Linked DNA regions of Homo sapiens. The protein of the gene in region 2 interacts with the protein of the main gene of each other region in a pairwise test. Each region holds a gene or a part of one and is shown on either strand. Other genes may lie near its edges. The genes, in order: DRD2, SLC6A3 and RIT2.

Evidence for each region.
Region 1: the proteins of SLC6A3 (region 2) and DRD2 interact in binary tests that used the Homo sapiens proteins (3 or more experiments, as listed by UniProt).
Region 3: the proteins of SLC6A3 (region 2) and RIT2 interact in binary tests that used the Homo sapiens proteins (3 or more experiments, as listed by UniProt).

Annotation. Positions count from the first base shown.
Region 1 is NC_000011.10:113,409,391-113,416,495, forward strand, and holds the end of DRD2 (D(2) dopamine receptor), read right to left. Parts: intron 6,222-7,105; coding exon 6,031-6,221; intron 5,072-6,030; coding exon 4,985-5,071; intron 3,494-4,984; coding exon 3,166-3,493; intron 1,531-3,165; coding exon 1,337-1,530; 3' UTR 215-1,336; downstream 1-214. UniProt on the Homo sapiens protein: Dopamine receptor whose activity is mediated by G proteins which inhibit adenylyl cyclase. Positively regulates postnatal regression of retinal hyaloid vessels via suppression of VEGFR2/KDR activity, downstream of OPN5.
Region 2 is NC_000005.10:1,442,340-1,450,124, reverse strand, and holds the start of SLC6A3 (sodium-dependent dopamine transporter), read left to right. Parts: upstream 1-4,684; 5' UTR 4,685-4,777; intron 4,778-6,882; 5' UTR 6,883-6,927; coding exon 6,928-7,213; intron 7,214-7,785. UniProt on the Homo sapiens protein: Mediates sodium- and chloride-dependent transport of dopamine. Also mediates sodium- and chloride-dependent transport of norepinephrine (also known as noradrenaline). Regulator of light-dependent retinal hyaloid vessel regression, downstream of OPN5 signaling.
Region 3 is NC_000018.10:42,916,680-42,923,784, forward strand, and holds part of RIT2 (GTP-binding protein Rit2), read right to left. Parts: intron 7,085-7,105; coding exon 6,893-7,084; intron 4,082-6,892; coding exon of another isoform or gene 4,046-4,081; exon of another isoform or gene 4,018-4,045; intron 1-4,017.

The DNA.
Region 1 (7,105 bases), on a different chromosome or scaffold from region 2:
GTGCATCCAAGGCCACCTTTTCCACAGAGCCTTCTCTGCCCTGGTGGGTAAGAGGGCAAAGGATGAGTCCTTCAGAGGAAGCAGGAGCTGCAACAGGGGAGGTGGAGCAGTGGGGGCAACCTGGCTTCCCTTGGGTTAGACCCTGCAGACACAGGGGTCTTGCTATACTTGAATGCCAAGCACAGAAGTGGCACTGCTGCCTTCTACCCAGGGGTCCTGGAAGGTGACTCGTCAAAGTTTTATTAGTTTGGTGCATGGATAGTGATGTTACAGAGTCTAGGCCCCAGGGGCTCTCCCAAGCTGCAGCTTCCCCTCCTTCCTCAGGGCAGGGCCAGGCCAGGCCAGATGGTTTTCAGCAGCCTCTTAGCCGTGGGCTCCTCTAAGGCAGAGGCAGTGGAAGGGAAGGGAAACAGGAGAGAGGAAAGGCCAGAAGGAATAGAAAAGGAAAGTGGTTTTGCGTCAGAGTGTGGCAGAGGCAGTCCCTCAAAGAACCTCTGATGTCCCCTAGCCCAGGCCCAGATAGAGTTCCAGGGCCTGACCTCCCTGCCAGGCCCCAGGCTGGCCAGCATGTGCTGTGAGAAGGGATACATTGCAGGGCCGTCAGAAGGCAGCAGGGTGGGCTAGGCCAAGGAGTTCCTCTCCCCATAGACCCTCCTGGGCCCTTCAAGATGAGGGCTCCTCTTCTCAGAGCATGTGGAAACCACTTGGGGAGCTGTAACGGGGTGAGGTGGGTCCGGACTAGCCTGGAAAGTAGAGGTCCACATCGGGGTGCGGGAGGGAGCTAAGGTTTTTGGCTTGGGAATCTCTGGGGTCCAACCTGCAGTCTGGTATTTACATGGGTCTCCCAGGACTGAAGTTGCCTGGCTCCTCGGCAAGAGAGCTTGCTTGCCTCCTGTGGGCCTTGCAGGGTGTGAACTGTCCATCTCTCCCCACCGCCTGCTCCACGCCAAGCCCCACAAAGAGAAAACTCAGCCTCTGGGCCCTGACTCAGGCTCCAGCAACCCTAGAGCCCCAGAGGAAGGTCAAGGAAGGCGGCTGCATCTTTGGTGCCAAGGATAGGGGGACTGGAGGTGGGAGGGGGGACTCTATGAGCTGCCCCTGAGCTGGGGGGCCCAGCCCCAGGGCTGGTACCATGCCCAGCTCACTAGCACTGCCCTGGCAGAGTGAGGGTGTGCGGGCAGTGAGGAGCATGGAGCCAAGCGAACACTGCAGGGCCTGCCGGGGTGAAGAGGAGGCCGATCCACCCAGGCCTTCCTGCTCACGGTTCGCAAGGGTGAGGCTGGCCGGCCTGGGCAGGGAGGTGGGAAGCAGGCTGCTGTGCGGGCAGGCAGCAGAGTCAGCAGTGGAGGATCTTCAGGAAGGCCTTGCGGAACTCAATGTTGAAGGTGGTGTAGATGATGGGGTTCACGGCGCTGTTGACATAGCCCAGCCACGTGAAGGCGCTGTACAGGACAGGCGGGATGTTGCAGTCACAGTGTATGTTCAGGATGTGTGTGATGAAGAAGGGCAGCCAGCAGATGATGAACACGCCTGGGGGAGAGGGCATGGTCAGGCTGGTCCCCAGAGCCGGGGAGGCACGGCTGGGAACACCCACACCCAGTGCGCCCTGGCTCGTATGCCAAGACGGTGGGCTGTAGCCACAGAAGCACTGTAGGAGGAGTCCAGGTCTTGGATCCTAGACCTGCCTCTGACACCCATTTGCAGTGAAGTATCCCTTCAGCTCCTTCAGCCTCACTTCCCTCATTTGTCCCTTTCCCACCTCCTAGAAAAGGGTACATGGTTTAACAATAAATCCAAAAGGTTACCATTCTGACCCAGGTTAGCCAGTAGAAATGGAAATATCTACTCTACTTCCAGGTCATCTTTGAGGGCTATAGACCCATGCCACTTAGTTCTTATAGCATCCTCATAAGGTACATAAGAAAAACACTCACAACAGCTCTGCAATATACCCAAGGTCATTCACTCTTGAGCAGCGAGGCTGAGAGCTGAACTCCGGTCTATCCAGGTCCCCAGATGATCTCGCTCTAGCCTTCCCCCAATTTCCCCAGTCTTGGTGGGTACACCCTTGCTAGTCCCTGCCTTGAACCATGCCCTCTCACCCAGGGCAGCCACCTACCTGCTCTGCTCACCTAACTCAGGTGCACTTTTTCCAGGACCTCCTGCACAGGTGTGATATTTATCCTGGAAGCAATGTGTACATGGAATGCCCTACAGGCACAGGAGGCATCCCTGGAGACTGAATGGTGTCTGGGAAGAGTAGGGCCACAGAGCTGAGCCCCTATGGACTGCAGCAGAGGGCCTGGCTCCAATCCTAGCCTACCATATCCCAGTCCCATGATCGTGAGTAGTCCCATGGGATCAAGTGCTCTCATTCATAAAAGAAGGGAGGTAACAGCTGCCCCACTCACGCCCCAGGATCATCCGGCAGTCAAAGGGGATTCAGGTGCTTCCTGGAAGACAGAGTCACAGGGGACCCTCCTTTTCCCAGCCACCCATATCAGTCCACCTTTTGGGTTTTGACCTTTACTATGTGGTTTTCTAGACTTCTATTGAAAAATCCTGCTTTATGGACAGGGATGCTTTTCATTTAGATTGGGGGCCACTCCCCAACATCTCATTTATTTTTCACAGCTCTGGTCCCATGGAGTCTTGTTTGAGTGCAAGTGAACTGAATTTCCCAATTCCTCAAAAAGAGCAATAGTAATAAAAACCATAATAGTGACACTTACATATGGATAGTGCTTTGTAGTTTAGAAAATGCTTTCACCAACTGATTGCCATGACAGCCCTGAGAAGTAACCTACTCTACAGATGAGGAGCCTAGAGAGAGAAAGTGACTTTCCTGGGCACATAGGCCCATGAGGTTCTGGTGCCAGCATAATAGACTAGTCAAATTTCCAGACTCTGGAGTCAGACTGCCTGAGTTCAAACCATGGGTCCTCTTGGTCAGGTTTTATAACCACTCTAAAACTCTGTTTGCCCATCTGTAAAGTGAGCACAATTACAGAATCTACCTAATAGGGCTGTCTGTATGTCAATGGGCTTGGCCTGTGCCTGAGGAAATGCTAGCCCCATGATCCTGCAGCCATGGTTAGGAAGGACATGGCAGGGAATGGGACCTTTCACAGACCGGGCTGTGGCCAGCAGCCAGGGCCGACTCACCGAGAACAATGGCGAGCATCTGAGTGGCTTTCTTCTCCTTCTGCTGGGAGAGCTTCCTACGGCTCATGGTCTTGAGGGAGGTCCGGGTTTTGCCATTGGGCATGGTCTGGATCTCAAAGATCTTGGCAATCTTGGGGTGGTCTTTGGCATGCCCATTCTTCTCTGGTTTGGCGGGGCTGTCGGGAGTGCTGTGGAGACCATGGTGGGACGGGTCGGGGAGAGTCAGCTGGTGGTGGCTGGGTGGGATGGGGCTGTACCGGGTCCTCTCGGGTGGGCTGGTGCTGGAGAGCATCTCCATCTCCAGCTCCTGGGCTCGCCGGGCAGCCTCCTGCACCAGAGGCAGAGGGCTCTGGGTAAAGCCGGACAAGTTCCCAGGCATCAGCCACCCATCTCACTGGCCCCTCCCTTTCCCCCTCTGAAGACTCCTGCAAACACCACAGGGTCACCCTGCCAGGGAGGCAAGGATGTCACTGAGGCATGGGACCCAGGACCCATGGCAGCCCCTGCAGGATTGCCCCTGTCCTTTTTCCCATGGCAATCCTCATGCAGCCTCAATACCCCACTTCTGTTCTGCCAGGGCTGAATACCAGGGACTTGTCTCTCATGGCCTGAGCAACACTTACTGTTAGCAAAGTGCCAGGTGCCACAGTGGCTGCTGGGGTCAAGAGCTGATGATGTTTGGCCCTGCCTCCAGAAACTCATGTTCCGACTGCAAAGAGGGTGCCCACCCCTGTTCTCCCTGTCAAACAAGGGGCCCAGTGCTCCCACTTCATGGGTACCTGCACCTGCGTACACACGTGGGCTCCATATTCTCCTGGATAGACTAATCTAGGTGCCAAAAGGCTGACCCCTGGGGCCCCACATCTTCCCTGCTGGGGTGACCTAGAGAGCCCTGGCATGGATCCACTCATGGCCTCCTGGGTTCTTCCATAGGTTCTCTTGTTTGAGGCCTTGGAGGTGTTAGTCTGAACTTCTAAAGTGCAGCCTCACTATGTGCCTAGGTGGCATGACTGGGCTGCTGCCTTGGCCCTGACTCTGAGGCTCTGTTTTGGCACCTGCCTCATAAACAGCTTCTTAGAGTCCTGCCCTTGCAGTGCAGGTGAAGGCAGGACACCAGACCTGGATTTTGTATGCGGCCCTCTGTGGGTTCTCTGGCCCTGTTCTCCATCCCTCTGGAGGATGGAATGCCTGCTGCTTGCATGTTGGTACAGCTACCACCTGGCAGAGGCTGGGGTCTGCTGTGCTTCCGCACCTGAGGGCTCTATGTACACAAACTGCTCCGCCACCAGTCCCCGCAGCTGCTCTGCTGCGTCCTACCCCAGAACCTGCCCATCCATAAGGCAGCTCATGTCAGTGGAAAGAACACAGGTGTGGATTTCAGAGTCACACAGGTCTGGGCTTAGTGTCACCAACTCTTGAGACGGGTGAGTTGCCTAATCTTTCTGAGCCTGTTTCCTCTTCTGTCAACTGAAGATCGGTTCGATCAAAGAGACTTACCTCCCGGGGTCGTGGTGAGGATTTGATGAGATAATAGGGATATGGTAGATGTTTGAGAAATGTGAATAGCCATTATTATCATTTTTATTACGTTGGTATGGCCAACCATTTTCTCGTACACATCCATGCCTTGCAGAACCGAGGTGTCTCACTTCATGCCTGCTTGGAGGTGTGCACGGTGAGTCTGCCTTCAGCTGAGGCAAGGTGGGGGTTTCTGGGGTGCTTCTCCCATTGGCCAGCTTCTGAGGTCTCAGAACCATGGCCAGTGGGCTTCCCTAGGGGCAGAAAGACCTGGCTCTGGGTCCCTGGCCTGAGCACTTACCACTCTCCGCCTGTTCACTGGGAAACTCCCATTAGACTTCATGATAACGGTGCAGAGTTTCATGTCCTCGGGGTGAGTACAGTTGCCCTGTGGAGTGAGCCAGCACATGGGTCACACAAAGTGGTGGGGATGGAGGGGGGACAGAAACCCAAAGTGCAGCAGTCCATGGAACTCAGACTGGGCAGAAGGGCTCAGAGATCAGGAGGGTGGGGGCCAGAGGAGGCAGTTGGGGCAAGGGGGAAGGCTGGAATGAGACAAAAAGTGGTGGGTATGACGAGGAACACAAGGACCTGGTTTTTTATGGAGCACCTGCTAAGGGCCTGGCACTGTGCTAGGCACACTCACGTCCCTTCTCACGTGGAATCCTCAAGACCACCCTGTGAGGCTGGTATTTTGATTCCCATTTAACAGATGAGGAAACAGGCTCATAGAAGGTAAGCAACTTGCCTAAGGTCACTCAGCAAAAAAAGTGTCAGTGACAGGATCTGAACCTGATGCGTCTAGCCCAAGAGCTCTTGTTCCTTCTGTGCCCACACACTGTCTTCCTTGTGAAGGACTGAGTGAAGGGGAGAATTCACAAGACATCAGGGGGGAAATGAAAGAGAAGCACAGGAGAGACATAGTGGAGAGGAAGTCAGGAAAAGTGATGTGTGTTTGGAGGGGAGGACAGAGAGTACGGAAGGTAAAGGAAAGAGGATGGAGGAGTCAGAGGGAGCTAAAGTGAGACAGAGAAACCAGAAAAGAGGAAGAGAGGAGCCCACGGGGGTACCAAGCAAGAGTTGCCGCCTTCAGTCACAAAGATCTCCAAGCAAAGACTTCCCCTTGTTATTTAGTGTCATGGACCCTGCCTCCCTCTCCTGGAGACTCAGATTGCTCCACTGAGGTCCATGCCTTCAAAATCTGCCCTTGCCCGGCTCCTGGGAATTCCTTTAGCCTAGACCTAACCCTTGCTGAGGTTTCCCAAGCCCCCACCTGAGCATAAGATGAGCCCTCTTGGTAATGGTTAGGTGGGGACCCTTGGAGTTGGTTGGGGGGTGTCTTGAGACCTTTAGTGGAGCCCTCAGGTGGGCCCTGAAAGCTCGGCTGCTGCGTTTGGTGTTGACTCGCTTGCGGCGTCTGCGGAGGACAATGTAGATCTTGATGTAGACCAGCAGGGTGACAATGAAGGGCACGTAGAAGGAGACGATGGAGGAGTAGACCACGAAGGCCGGGTTGGCAATGATGCACTCGTTCTGGTCTGGGGGAGGGAGAGCCCGGGCAGGCAGGGAGTCAGCGGGCCCACCGGCCATAATTCCACAAGAGCCCATTCATGTCCTTCCAGGAACAAGGAGCGATTTTACAGAGAATATGAACGCAACTAGATGTTTAAGGCTGCCTGGTCATCTTAGATATACACAAACGCACAGCAGATACCAGAGTATTAAAAACACGGTTGTGAGCAAAAAGTTAAGCTGTGATGATGGACTGCTCCCAAGTCTTTCCATTACTATTCCCTCATTACTTGGTCATTAGTTTTGCCATGTCTGGGCATAACAAGTGAAGCCGATGTATCCAGAAAGAATGACACAAGAAAACTTTTAAAAGAGTAAACCATCTTTTTAGTCTGACCTGTGTATTGGGAGAGGTTGGCCACCTTTTAATGTTTGCAGCAAGATAACTTGGCTCTGTCTGTTGAACTCACTTGTGTTCCTATGTGTTTCATATGTTTGCGTGCCCTTCTAGGTCTACCAGACGCCTGTCCTCTATCTCAGGGCCTTGTGCATTAATCCAAGTATGTTTAGTGTTATTCCCACTTAGAATTCCTGTGATGCTTATAATAGATACCGAACCACACATTTTCAAGGCTTCACTGTATCTTTTGTTGTTACGATCTCCAGAGGTGCACACCTGCCATCGCTCTTGCCTCCCTGATGAGAGGAAGTTCCACGCTGGCGGGGGCTTTGTGTTGCCTCTGTCTGAGACACTCCTGACTCTGCCTCCCACAGAAATGGGCATGTGGTCAGCTTACCTCCTATTCACTTCTAGCTTTCCTGCTCCAGGTGGCTAAGGCCTGACCTGGGTTTAGCAGGCCCTGAGGGCTGCAGCTTCATTACAAAAATACTATTGTCAGGAGTGGATGGA
Region 2 (7,785 bases):
CATGAAATCTACCAAGAAAAATCTTGTCATCAATATTTCAATTTTTTTGAAGCCTCCTGCTCTGTAGCCAGACCATTCGCCACTGCCTATGACTACATTTAGGGCCATCCTCTGGCCATCCCTCCTTGGCTAGATGATGAACCTGATGCATGGTTTGAATATGTGCCCACTGGGAAGCTTTCTTTCACTGGTCTTTCACAGAAGGCCATGATGACACAGCCTTTCACTTTCTGGTGGGGGCAGTGTGCTGTGTATAGACACATGTAATCCAGGCCCCAACGCATGCATTTTCTCCGTTCAATGTCATAAGAAACTCTCATGTAGCCAGAGGTCTGGGTTAAGGAAGCGGTCTCCATGCAGCAAGAGTGGGTGCTTGTTCATGGAACTTACCGCGCCTTCCAGACCTGCTCAAGCCTTGTGTCGTAAACATTCCACCTGAGGACGGCAGGATGCTGTCTACACAACCTCTGTGGGTCCGATAACAAATAGCTTCTGCTGGGCCGCTCAGCTTCTATGGTAACAGAGCTCCCTGAGTTTCTGCTATGGCTCAGGGCTGCTCTTACTCAAAAGGAGAGGACGTATTTTCAGGAGAGCGTTCAGCTCTTATTCAACTGTTATTTTCTGCGCTGCCTACAACATCTCCGTCTGCCACAGACCCTCCAATTCCCACTGGTTCTGCCAGATCAGTGTTCTCAAAGTGTGGTTCCTGGGCCAGCAGTGTCAGTGTCACCTGAGAACTTTCTAGAAACGCAGGTCCTCAGGTCCCACCTCAGACCTACTGAACCTGCGTCTCTAAGGATGGAGCGAGGTGATCTGTGCCTCCTATGCATGTAAAGGTTTATGTAGGTGACTGTGATGCCAGCTAAAGTCGGAGAACAACACCAGATTGTGTGGCCTCCTGGGGCAGCAGTTTGCCCATCCAGACCAGCAGCAGAATCTTTCTTACTCTGGGCCCTACTCAAAACCAAACGCTTTATGAAGAACACAAAACAGGCCAGAGAAGCATCCCCGAGTGTCTTGCACCTCACCTTGCAAACCGGAAGAGCCTCACCAGGTATGATACTTCTTTCTTAGTGGTAGTCTTGCTTGCCAGAGACAGCGTGTTTTCTTTCATTTTGGATATATATTTTGACCAATCAGACCAATGGACCCACAGAAAGTTCACCAAGGTGGCAGGTTTTGAAAATGTGTTATTTTCTCTTTCAATTTTTAGCAAGCACGTGTCTTACCAAGGCATCTTGGCATTTTTCATTTTTTGCTCCCCAGGTTGATTCAGCCTGATGTCATCAGTGTGGCAGACCACTGTGACATGCTGTGCAGTGGCAAGACCATCAAGATGTCTGTGACTAAAACCAGCAGTGAGCCGGAAAATGATACAGCTCTGAGAGAAGACATTGGAAGTGTACTGCTGTCCCTGCCATGCGAGAGGAAACTATCTTCCTCCTGAGGTGGCCCCCGGGGAGGGCACAGGGGTGCAGCAGTGAGCAGGGCCTCCTGCCTGGAGCCAGCGCCTTCCATCATTCTCAGAACCTGGACAGACAAGGTCTGGGATCTGACCTCCCACACCCCTGGACAAAAGCCACTCCTGCCTACTGGTCCCCTCACCCTTGCCCTCCCCAAGCCCCCTACCCCCAGGGCCTTCCCAGCACCAGTGAGAGGTCAGGGTCTTTAAAGTCTGAGCTGGGCTCCCTGGGACTTCCTCTGAAAGCACACAGGACACCCTCAATATAGTAAATACGCAGGCAGGTAAATGACTGTCATCTCACTGCCACTGTCCTTGTCCCCTCTCAGATACAGCACTCATGGGGGGAGCATCCACGCTGTCTTCCAAATCAGGCGAGACACGGCGCAACATCCAGCACTGAGGGCCTCCCAGGAGGCAGCACCCAAGGAGGGGGGGACCCGTGGGGCAAGGTTGCTTTGGAGACAGCAGTCAGTGGCCAGGGGCTCCTTGTGGGCTCTGCAGCTGCGGTCCCAGCCAGTGGGGAGAGGTGCCGAGCATGGGCAGGAAGTGCAGAGGCAGGGGGGCTCCACCTGCCTGCACCCAACGCCCTGAGCCCACAGCAGCCATAGCAGCAACCACAATGATAATAAAGCCGACTTGGCATTTAGGGCAAAGTTCCAAGCATGCAAAGGTCGGCCGTTTGATCAGGTCTGATCAGCTCATAACCACACTGCTTCTACCTGCACAGTTCACGGAGCATTCCTGTTGTGGGAGGATGGAGACCCATGGGTCTGGCAGCTGCGCTTTCTCTGTGTCATCCATGAGCCCAACTCCCGCAGTTAGTTTGTTCTTAGAGCACCCAAAGCTCCTTTATCCTAATTCATGTGGTTGGAAGTCGGGGTTGAGGCAGGGGTGGAGGAATGCTCTTTGTCTTGGCAGAGTGCAGGTTACATGCGTGTGATCACTCAGTGGCCCCTCCTGAGTGTGGCAGGTGCATTCTCTGTGTGCTACTGGTCAGTAAGGATGTGGCTGCCTGGATCTGTGTGACCTCTAGTCCCTGCACCTTCCTGCCTGTACCCTGTTAGCTTTGGGTCACAATTCTGCGCTCCTGCAGCGCTTGCAATCCCTTCCCAAACGCTGTTTGCCTGTGTGTTGTTTTGTTTCGAGACAGGGTCTCATCCTGTGGCCCATGGCGCAATCTCAGCTCACTACAACCTCCACCTCCCAGCTTCAAGCTATTCTCCCACCTCTGCCTCCCCAGTAGCTGGGACTACAGGTGTGGGCCACCATGCCTGGCTAATTTTTTTTTTCAAAGTCAGGGTTTTGCCATGTGGCCCAGGCTGGTCTCAAACTCCTGGCCTCAAGAGATCCTCCTTCCTCGGCCTCCCAGAGTGCTGGGATTACAAGCGTGAGCCCTCACTCCTGGCCTGTGTATTTTTAATATACCTGAACATCCATTCTCTCTGTGTGTTTTATTTAACAGCCTCCCTTAGTCACCTGCAAAGTCTTTTCCTTGGGAGACTGTTTCCTCAACCCTGCTGCTCTGGGGCCAAGCCCTGGCTCACTCCTTTTTATTGAAACCTGTGCCATGGAGATAATAGGGGTAGAGAGATCCCTTCTGTGGCAGCCACTGACACACTACAGCTTCGAGGTGGCACATCCCCCTCTCCTGAAGTCCCCTCACCTCCCTGGCGATGAAGTCCCACCCCTGATGGGAGGTGGTGTCAGGAGGCCTTCAGGTGGTCAGGCCAGGAGGGCTCCACCCTGAGGAATGGGACCAGTGCCCTCATAAAACAGACCCCGGAGAGCTCTCCCCAGCCCCTAGCGTGGGGAGATACAGGGAGAGAACTGTCTGCAACCCCGAAGCGGCCCTCACCAGACACAGAGTCGGCCAGGCCTTGGCCTCGGGACACCGGAACCGTTAGAACTGAAGGCTTCTGTGTGAGCCCCCAGGCTGTGGAGTTTTTTGTCATGGCAGCCCCAGGGGGTCACTAGGCTCCCACTTGATTCCAACTCAGCGTGAAGTCACAGCCCTGAGTGCCTTCTGCCTGGGTGCCAGCCCCGGAGCCGGGGAGCGGGGGAGCGGGGGGCGGGGAGGGGAGTGGTGGTGTGCGGGGAGTGCGGGGCGGGCGCAGGGGGTGGGGCACCGCGCTGCGGGCGGGTACTGCGGAGTCAGGCACCAAGGGTCCCTGCCTCCCTCACTGCTGAGCGCGGGCTGCAGGCTGGAATGGCTGGAGAGCCCCAGGGCTCGCCTGGACGCCCAGGGCAGGGTGCTCACGGGAGCATCGAGGGTACACGGGGAGGAACGCCGGGGTTCGGGCGACCCTAGGGGCGACGCACAGAGCTGGGCGCGGCCACTCACCTCGGTGCCTTCTAAGGACCTGGACATCCTGGGCCTTGGCGGCCTGGGGGCTCCATTCCTCCGCGCGCTGAATGGAAGAAATCCCGCCCGGGCATCTCGGAAGGAAAGCCTCGGAGTCCATTCGGCCCTGGAGCCGGATACCAACCGCCAGGGCTTTCCAGGCCCGTCCCGGGAAATGGTTTTCTTAGGCGAGTGCGAGGCGGGCCCCTCGGTTCCGATGCAGGCGCACTAGATGCCGGCAAGGCGGGGACTAGGCCTAGGGGACCTCGGTCGCCTCGAGGTCGCGGAGACCCCAAGGCCACGGAAGGACCCGCGTCTCCGCAGCCCGCACGCCGGGAAGCGTGCAGAGTCCTCGGCGGGGTCCCGAGCCCGCTGGTCAGAGCGTGGAGCGGCGGGGTGGGAGGGACGTGGTCCCCAGAGCGCGGGGCCACCGTAGGGGCCCCTGATGGGGAGGGAGGGAAGGGTCGGCCCGACGGGGTCCCAGCAGTTCCCCGCGCGCAGCCGCTCGGCTCCCTCCCCGTCCAGCTGGGAGCCGCCAGCCCTGGGCGTCCGAAGATAGCGGGTGCCCGGGGCAGCCCCCAGGGGTGCGGGCGAGGGCGCAGGGCGGCCCAGACAGTTCCCGCGTGGAAGGCGCCCGTCTAGATCCGCGACGTCTCGGACCCCCAGGCCCCCGCACCCCGTGTCCGAGGCTCCGGGACGCGCAGGACAGTGGAGCCGTGGCCGCCGCTTGCTCCCAGCCATCTGCGTCCGGGAGGCGGGGGCGGGGGCGCGGCCCGGGGAGGTGAGGAGGAGGAGCCAGGACGCGAGGGCGACCCCGTCGGCGGGAGGGCGGGGCGGGGCGGACCCTGTCTACTGGATAAGAGCCCGAGGCCGAGGCTGAGACCGCCCAGCGCTGCGGAGCGGGAGGGGAGGCTTCGCGGAACGCTCTCGGCGCCAGGACTCGCGTGCAAAGCCCAGGCCCGGGCGGCCAGGTGAGGCCAGCGTCGCTCGCGGCATCGGGGCGCCCCGCTCCTTCCGCAGACCCCGAAGTGGGGCGCAGGGGCGGGGGCCGGGGACCGGGCACAGTCTGGGGTCCCCGCGTCCCGCAGACCGCGCCGTCTCCAAAGTCGCCAACAGTCGCGGGTGCCGAGCGCCCCCCGATAGCGCCACATGGGACCCTGAGGCCGTCCGAGGCGCGAGGAGGGTGCAGGGCTGCCCCTGGCCCCGCTCCAGGCTCAGAACCGGGTGGGCACCTGGTGCAGTCACCGGCTTAGGGGACGCGTGGGTGTCTATGGCTGTGACTCGGGGGTCCTGGTTTCTTCTCGTGGAACTTAACCCTACTAGGGGTGCGGCGCATCCCAGATCCGATCGGAGTGGGTTTTGTACACCGCCGCTCCATCTCGCGGGGGCTTTGTCTGTGTTGGGGGTGGTGGCGGGCGCGGGCTGCGCGCTGGTGCTCTGGGCAGGGCGGGGAGGCCGGGCGAGGACTCGCCAGGCAGCGCCGCTTCTTGTTCTGGGCGCGGTGAGGAAGGACGCTTTCTAACGGGCCACATTTTGCTGTGTAGACCCAAAACTCGCCTCTGAGGCCCCGCGTTCAGGAGCGGGGTCAGGTGGCCCCAGGGCGGCGGCGGCTTGCCGGAGACTCGCGAGCTCCGCACCCGACGCCCTCTCCCAACGCGGCCTCCTGCTCGCGCCGCGGAACCCCTTCGTCGGGTGTTTTACCCACCGGAGGGGTCGTGCCGGTTGAGGTTGTCACCGGGTGCGTGGCATAGCTCGTGATAGCTCATGGGTGAGGTTTTGTGCAAACTTGGATGCAGGGAAAGTTGCCTGTTAGAGCCTCCACCTGCGACCTGCTTCAGTCGTTGTGTGTGTGTGCGCACCTGTGTGAGTGTGAGTGTGTATGTGTGTAAGTGTATGTGCTCGCCTGTGTGTGTGTGAGTGTGTATGTGTGTTTGTGAGTCTGTGTGTGTCTGTGTGTCTGTGTGTGCGTGCGCTCGACTGAAACACGCTGCTGCTGGATCCAAATGACAGAAGTCGCCCTGGCTGGGGCGGTGTAGACGCTCCTGCTCTCCTGCTCAGCGTTGCAGGGGGGTTTATGTAGCCGTTTGGACAGGATTTCCCGGGTTACCCTGCTGGCCCAGGAGCTAGTTCCCGCGATGAAGCCCTGTCCATCCTCCGCCCAGCTCTCTCACGCGGGGTGGTGCCACCTGCCCTAGGTGGATGTGGCTTGTACAGACACTTTTTGAGGAAGCAGTTGTGATGGTTATGTCTAAACTCTCTTTACAGTGGCTGATTTTGCTTATATAAATTTTGCTCTTTATTACTGAGTATAAACAATACAAGCCCAGGCTTGGTGGCTCATGCCTGTCATCTCAGCACTTTGGGAGGCTGAGGCAGGAGGATCGCTTGAGACCAGGAGTTCAAAACCAGCCTTGGCAACAATAGTCAGACCCTGTCTCTACAAAAAAACAACAACAACAACAAAAAAACACACACAAAAATAACTTAGCCGGTGCTGTGGTGCACACCTGTAGTCTCAGCTGCTCAGGAGGCTGAGGTGCAAGGATCACTTGAACCTAGGAGGTTGAGGCAGTGAGTTGTAATCACAACTGTATTCCATCCTGGGTGACAGAGCGAGACCTCATGTTAAAAAAGAAAAAAAAAAGAAAAAAGAATACAGATGAACAGTCATGAAGACATTATTGAATGCTCTTAGAAGATTGTAAAATTGCTCTCTGGAAGTGTGGGGGAAGGTGGAAGTGATATCCATGCATTGTTAGTAGAAAGCCACGCTAGAGCTCACACAGCCTTGCACTTTGATAGGAGTGGGGAGGGGTGCAGGGGAAGGAGGAGCAAACCAGAGTGTCTGTCTTGAGGCCTCCATGGGCCAGTGCCCCAGCCCTGTGGTGAGGGCTGGCACTTCCCAGCTCCCGTGCCCCAGCTGTACCATCTCAGGCGCTGAGAACGCACCCATCCCTTCCCAGAGGAATGCCCGTGAATGCCTCGGGGCTCTGCCCTCCGCACCAGGTATGTCCCTAGCCCTGGCTGCTGAATTGTTGCGTTCCTGTTGTGTGTTTATTTTTCATATTGGCTGAAGACCAAGAGGGAAGAAGCACAGAATTCCTCAACTCCCAGTGTGCCCATGAGTAAGAGCAAATGCTCCGTGGGACTCATGTCTTCCGTGGTGGCCCCGGCTAAGGAGCCCAATGCCGTGGGCCCGAAGGAGGTGGAGCTCATCCTTGTCAAGGAGCAGAACGGAGTGCAGCTCACCAGCTCCACCCTCACCAACCCGCGGCAGAGCCCCGTGGAGGCCCAGGATCGGGAGACCTGGGGCAAGAAGATCGACTTTCTCCTGTCCGTCATTGGCTTTGCTGTGGACCTGGCCAACGTCTGGCGGTTCCCCTACCTGTGCTACAAAAATGGTGGCGGTAAGTCCCATCTCAGCCTCCCTGAGCATGCTGGCCGGGCGGGGGTCGTAGGGGCAGCCGGGGCCAAGGCACGTACGGAAACGAGATGAAGCTGTTCCCATGCGTGAAGACGGAGCTCCCTGTGAGAGCTCACGGCCGGTGCAGATCCTCCCAGAGGATGTCACAAAACCATTGAGCAGGACTCGGAGCTGCCTTGTCCCACGCCTGCATTTCAGAGTTTAGGAAAGGGAGGCCCGCGAAGAAGCTGGGGGGTGGGGGGCGGCAGACGGGGCAGCTTGGCTCTGCCTCCTGTTTCCAGAGGCTATCTTCGCTTTGGAAAGAAAATTCTCAAAGGTCCAAAGAACAGCCTGCGGCTGACTTTGGCAGCCTTTGCAAAGCATGTGGAGGCCCTGGAGCCTGGAGTGGCAGAGGAGGCCCCTGGAAAGTGACTGTGTCCCCTGCACCCTCCAGAACCCAGCCACAGAGCCAGAAAGCGAAGATCGAGGCAGGGCCACCGGGGACGTCCAAGAACATTGGTGATCCCTTCCCAGGAGCCTCTTTGGGCCTCCCAGCCTCCCTGCCTGGCCTCCCTC
Region 3 (7,105 bases), on a different chromosome or scaffold from region 2:
GTAGCACCCAGTATTTATTGAGGCGCTACTCTGTGACATACACTGTGCTAGATAACCTACTGACATTATCTCATCTGTCCCACCCAAAAAACAATGACAGAGATATTATCATCCTATTTTACAGACGTAGACACTGAGACAGAGTCTGAAGCGCAAGATGTTTATTAGGAATCAACATTTCTGAAAGGAAGGAGAAGGAAGCAGGGTTGAGCAGAGGGAGAAGTTGAACGTTAATGCAAACCCAACAGAGTCTTTACCAAACTAGTGGGGGCTCCCTAGCAAGATTTGCCTGTCAGTATCTCACATTGGACTGAAATGGCTGGAAATGTATGCCTACACTTAACTGGAAATGAGTTTCCCCAGAAAGGGTGTGACATCAGGCAAGGAGGCTCTATGTAGCTGAGGCTGACCCTTTAAGCACTTGATGGCCGGAAGCTATCTATGAATTATATCTTCCTACTTCTGTGCTGGACAGGAAGTACTTCTCTGAACAACAGGTACAAATCAGTGTCTGTCACTGATTTGTCCAAGGACACAGTAATCATCTGAGTAACAATTCAAACCCAGGACTATCTGATTCTTTCAACTACATCATCTGTTAGTTTCTGTATGCTGCTTACATTTCTTAAAAATGTCATGAGGACTCCATCATGGACACCCACTGGATTGTGTGATAATGCAGTAATGACCTCAGGTATCACTGAGGAATGTAGAAGAATTTGTTGTTACATGAAAGGGCTCTAAACCTCACTGTAATCTTGTCACTTGCCATCCTGTCAGTGTGCAGTATGAGTATGGAATTCGTGAACAGTCAGCAAGCACTATCCCTTTCACTCAAGCTACCATCATTTCTCATTCTGATGACTGAAAGAGCCTCCAAATGCATCTCGCTGCTTCATGGTTGCTCCAACCAACGACAAGACTGACTAAATAGAAATGTATTCATACCACAATTCTGCTCAAATGTTTTAAACAATTGTTGTTCAAACTTAAATAAAATCCAAACTCTTACCAAAGAACTTTTTAGCTCTACATAACCTGACCCTGCCTCCTCACCAGCTATTATGGCTCTCAAACATGCTAAGCTAAATCCAATTGTGAAGATTTTGCAAGTGCTATTTGTTCTGTCTGGAATGCTCTTCACCCAAATCCTCCCCACACTCCGGAGTTGTGCTCAATGCCATCTTTTTAGAGAGACCATCTTGACCACCCTAGAGAAAATACAGCTCTGATTCTTACACTCCACATGCCAACCCCTTCCCTTGCTTCATTTTTCTCCTTTGCCCTTTTCACTGCTCAGAACTGTGTACACATGTGTGTATGTATGCATGCATATTTGAATGTGTATAATTTTATTCCTAGTACCATTTTTGCATTGTGCAGTTAGAATACACATACCCATACTCAAATTGTTCATTGTCTGTCTCCTCCACTGTAACTTCACATTATTGCACATAGAGATATTAGCTGTCAAGTTCATTTGTGTATTCCCAGATTCTGAAAGAGTGCTTGTTACCCATTGGGAAAATGAATTAAATTTAAAAAATGACAGTAGCGAAAACATATATGTGTAAGCTAAGGTAACTCAAATTCCAGTTCTACAACCATCCAGTTTGGATAAATCATGTGAAACTCTTAAGCTTTGTTTTGTTTTGTTTTCTGTCTCAATTGGAGTTAATACATTCACATTTATTTAATTTAATTAAATAACATATTACAAAATGCTATGGAAAAGATAAATAAAGCTAATTAATTGTTAATTGAATTTGGCTATCTATCCCAAAATAATGAGTAAATTACCGAACCTTTTTTTCTCTTCAAAAAATAAGCCCTCATCATTTGGAAAATATGTTTATATAAATTTTCCAATGCACTGATGATGAAAGATAATTAAGCACTACTCTTATTTTTTTAAGTTTGAGTGGTATTTGCAATTAATTACTGCATTACATTATATCCAATATGCTCTGCTACATATTTATGTTTTGTCTTTGATTAAATGTGTCTACAAGGGAGACACTATGAAATTATGCTTAGGACGCTTGATATGTGTGTACTAGGCAGATTTATCTTCCAAGTTTCCCAGTGATCACTCTACTGCTTGTGTACACTCCTAAGACCCAAGGTTTCTTTCTTCCTCTCTAGATTGATCCTTTTCAGTCCTTCCTAAAATAACCGTCACCATTCACCTTATCTTTCTTACTTGGTCAAGATATTCATCCATTCATTCAGTATCTTCGTTCTTCAAATGTGCTACCCACATGGGTCTCTCCTGGTTTTCAAAAAGCATTGCACCTATGAATTGTGCTATATTGTTCAACATGTAATTGTATTATTTAAGGGGGGCTTTCTCCCTACATCATATGCACAGATCCTGAGAAGAACAGAAAGTTCTTGAGGACAGGGACTGGATTACTCATGCCTTTACTATATTCCAAAACCATCACGACTCTCCAAAGATAAATAGATGCTTGATAGAACTCTAAATAGATATTATGCTTTTTTAATCCAGTAATTCCTAATTCTCATGGTTCCAAATACCCCTCTAAGTAAAGAAATGAAACTATTTTAATTAGATATATCACTAAAGAATAAATAAAGGCCTTTCATGATTTCAACTCAGTACTTCAAGAGTTACACAGACTGTGGGAAGCAGAGTTTCAAGGCCTAAAGCTGAGAATTAAGCTGCAATTACACTGTTGGTACCGAAAGGTTTGTCTATCTTCAGGATATCTTCAGGATAAAACAGTTTGGCCGGGCGCAGTAGCTTATGCCTGTAATCCCAGCACTTTGGGCAGCCGAGGCTGGAGGATCACCTGAGGTCAGGAGATCAAGACCAGCCTGGCCAACATAGTGAAACCACGTCTTTACTAAAAATACAAAAATTAGCTGGGCATGATGGTGGGCACCTGTAATCCCAGCTACGTGGGAGGCTGAAGCAGGAGAATCACTTGAAGCTGGGAGGTGGAAGTTGCAGTGAGTGGAGATTGTACCACTGCACTCCAGCCTGGGTGACAGAGCGAGACTCCATCTCAAAAAAAAAAAAGTTTGTGGTCTGCAATTGACATAAAACGTTCTAACCTAGCTCCCAAATCCCTGAAACTTCCTTCACTCATAGACTGCTTCTACTTTGCACAGCCGGTCAGGGTTTTGGAAAAAGAGAAATCCGGGCCTATCTCCTTCTATTCTCCAGTGGGAAGACAGAAGCCTGCATGAATAGGGACAAAGACCTTGGGAGCTCAAGGACCTAATGTTGTTCAGGAATTAAGACAGACTTTAGAATAGTCTGGATAAACTTTGGACAGAATTTTTTGGCTGTTATAAAACACAACTTTCCAGTAATTTTGAAACCCATTTCCTTACTTTTATTTTTCCTCCCACCAAAAGGGTAAGGAAACCAACTTTGGGCTACTACTGGCTTATCCATGGCCTGGAACTGCCCACTCCAAACCCAAAGAATTATTATCCTGATTCTTCCTGCTCCTCCTTGTCCATAAGATGCTACTGCTCTAAGAAGCATGCTAGTATCTTGAAGCTGATATAAAAAAATAAGTTCATGATAAAATGACAATGGTTTGTAGGCCAACCATAAGACACAGTGAGATTTTAAGTCAGAATACACTGGGTTTTGTCTCTCAACTCTAACTAGCTGTGTGACCTTGAACAAGTTATTGAATGTATCAGAGATTCAGTTGACTCATATGTAAATAGGTATAAAGGAGACTACTTCTTGGTCTTGCGGTGAGGATTAAATAAAATCTTGTGTGTAACGTGCCCAGCACAGAGCCTTGAAAACACTAAATGTATCATCAGTAATATCACCATCAAAATGAATATTTTTCACAGATTAAATACTATCCTTTGAATCCTTCCACATTAAAGCTCAAGGAGGTGAATAATGATAAACACATAATACACTAAAACTCGTTGTCTTTTTGTTTTTTTTCTTTTTATCTTTTTTAGAAAGGGCCCTGGGATTTCCCAAAATGCATTAAGAATACAGGCACCTATTCTTACCAAATATGAAAAGAAGCAGCTTCAACCATCAGAATTCTTCCCTTCCAAACTCTTTCAGTGTAGGCTGATAAGGAATAAGAATTGCTTAGTGAGAATCCTACTCCTTTGCCTCTCACCACTAAACAATAGCACCAGTGTAATTTCACCGTTGAGAGTTTAACTTTATCACTCTAGGAATTCTCAGAGAATTCTTTTGAGCTGCAAACCATCCAGGTGTCAGCATCTTTATTTTTCTTTTGAGTCTGCTTTTTTTTTTTTATATGAAGAAACAGAAACCTAACCTTTCAGATACTGATGAACAAAAAGAGTACAATATGACAGTGTTTTAGTCTTAATTTTGTCACTAGCTGCAATAGTTTAGTAAAGTCAATTGCTATCAATATATTCATTTGTCAGATGTCCTCATTCTTCAAATGCTTGGCTTACAAATACACAGAGTGGTTACAAGATAAAAGTGTGAATTGAAATCATTTTGCTCAGAAAAAACCACTCTGCAGTTTTAAGAATAATTATTGCTATCACAACCACAGCCAGAAGCCAAATTTTTACATCAACACTTCATTACTGGAGACAGTGGTACACAAACATTTTTGCAAAGATTGCAATTTGTGTTTTCATGGTTTTCGCACTTTCTGTGACTATCTTGTTTACAGTACTTGCTTTTATCTACAAGGAAAAGACTATCAAATCTGCAAAGTTACTCAACTTAGTATCTTTGCCTGGGTTTTAATTTCAGTGACATTTGTAATGCTTGCAATTCACTTCACTGCTAATCTGAAAGGAGCAGCTAATTAACCAGGCTGGGATAGGGGTTCTGATAAACATGCCTTTGTGAGATCCTAAGTATCACCTTTGAGCCTGGTAAGACAGGGCCTGGAGAGTGAAGGAAAAGTAAATGTCAGCCAGCTTTGGAGTCATGAAGAGCAATCATTGTAGAGAAAGTTTAGTTGATTTTTGGCCTGAAAAAATGTTTCCTGAATGTTTTCAAATTCACTAGTTTTTCAGAGTCACTTATAGCTTTCCTAACTGAAACCCTGTCAGAGGTTTTTGTTCTCCAGGAATTCTTAGAAGTGCAACAAAAATGGGCATATGATCACTTGGTGGCACATTTAGGGTGCTTTGTCACACTAGTTCCTAGAGGCCCTAAGAAAAGTAAAGCACTAGCACTCTTCAGAGGAGTATAGGAAAGGTTCAGCTACTAAGCCTCCAACTTTCTTCCTTTCTGCCAAGTTATCTAAAATAGATTATATTTAACTGATGAGATAAACTTGAATTCTTAACCCATAGAAATGCAACATATCATGCTGAACATGTCTTTGGAGAAAGAGAAACAGCAAAGTAAGACAGCAGAACAGTTGCAGAAGAGATGAACAAATATTACAGTTCCTAAAACAATAATTAGCTGCCATTTTAAGATGCTTAGATTCTCAAGTAAAATATACAAAAATATCACCACAAAAATGCATTGCACTAAATCATAGAAATACGTTCCCGGTTAAACATCAACTTGTAAACATGGACTCTGTATGAGATCTTTTCAATTTAAGAAAACTTAAAGCATATTAAGCATGAAAATTCATATTTATAATACCCTTAAGATAGGAGACAACTATTTGTTTTAGTGAAGATTCCTACGTTAGTAAAAGGTTTTACTAGTTGACTAATTTAAATAGGCTAACAATAAATCATTAGCTGGAATAACATGAACTATTAAAAGCCAGTTCAAATTTAAGGTCAACGAAAAGAAAGATGAAGCATCTCAATTTATAACAAAGCAACTCAATTTAGAAAATTAGATTTACAAAAATTTGATTTGCATGACACTTCTCAGTAATGTTACTTTGTACAATGTGAGTCATGGGAATGGAATTGTGATATGATTTGCCTGATTCTTGAACCAGGGCAACTGATTTATCATTACTATCTTGAGATCTCAGGGAGGAAGCCATCATAGTTCGGCCATCTGTTATTGCCCAAGAAGTAGTGTCTGACCAGAAGAGAAGAAAATATAATGAATGAACTATGTAAGTTACGGTAATGGATCCCAGTCTAAGCTAGCCACAGTTTCTTCCTTATCAATTTTGTTTGTTCGGAGAAGTTTTGAGACTCTCTATTGATCACATTGATACAGCAGATGCAGCCTGAAGGAAATGGATGGTATATAAGAGTAATTTCTGATGCAACCTGAGAAGTAGTGGCTTGTTCTAATTCTGGAAGGAGGGAAAGATTCTGTTTTGATCATCTATTGCTGCATGAAAAATTACCCCCAAAACATGGTAGCGTAAACAATTTCATTTTATTTGCCACTGATTCTCTAGGTCAGAAATCCAGACAAGGCTTACCTGGGAGATTTTCGTGTTCTATGTGGATTGGCTGGCTATGTTATGAGGTTACAGTTACATGGTGGCTGGTGCTGAAACATGCAAAGTGGCTTTGCCCACATGTGTAGTATCTTGGCAGGGACAGCTGTGAGCCTGAATCTCATTTTGTCCACATGACTATCTTCTCATGGTTAGCTTGGGCTTCTTTACTTGAACTCAAGGGTAAGCAGTTCAAGCGGCAATGGCAGAAACTGCAGAAATCTTAAGGCTACACTTCAGAAGTCAACAAGAATCATTTCTACTGTATTCAGTATACAATCCCAGATCCTAGGGGATAGGGCACTAGTAAGGGCACTCTGCAAAATAGCATATGTGGTAAAATATATTATGGAGGCCAACACAATTTACCATGGGACCACCATGACTTATTAGAAAAATCATGTGCATAATTTCTTTCTCATAATTTTCAGTGTGAACCTGGGAAAGCAGCCATATTTTGTACTATGCATCCTCAGAGCAAAAGACAGAAGCTACCAGATAAAATCGGCACTCACCTGGCGGAACTGTTCCAGATCAATTTTGTTACCCACCAGCACCAGGGGAATTTCATAGGTGTGGCGGACCTGAAAAATGAGCTCTTTAAACTTGGCAGCCTCCTGAAATGATTGACGGTCAGTGACGGAGTAGCAGATGATGAAGCCTTCCCCACCTCGCATGTACTGCTCCCGCATGGCTGTGAATTCTGCCTGCAGGAAAAAAAAAAAAAA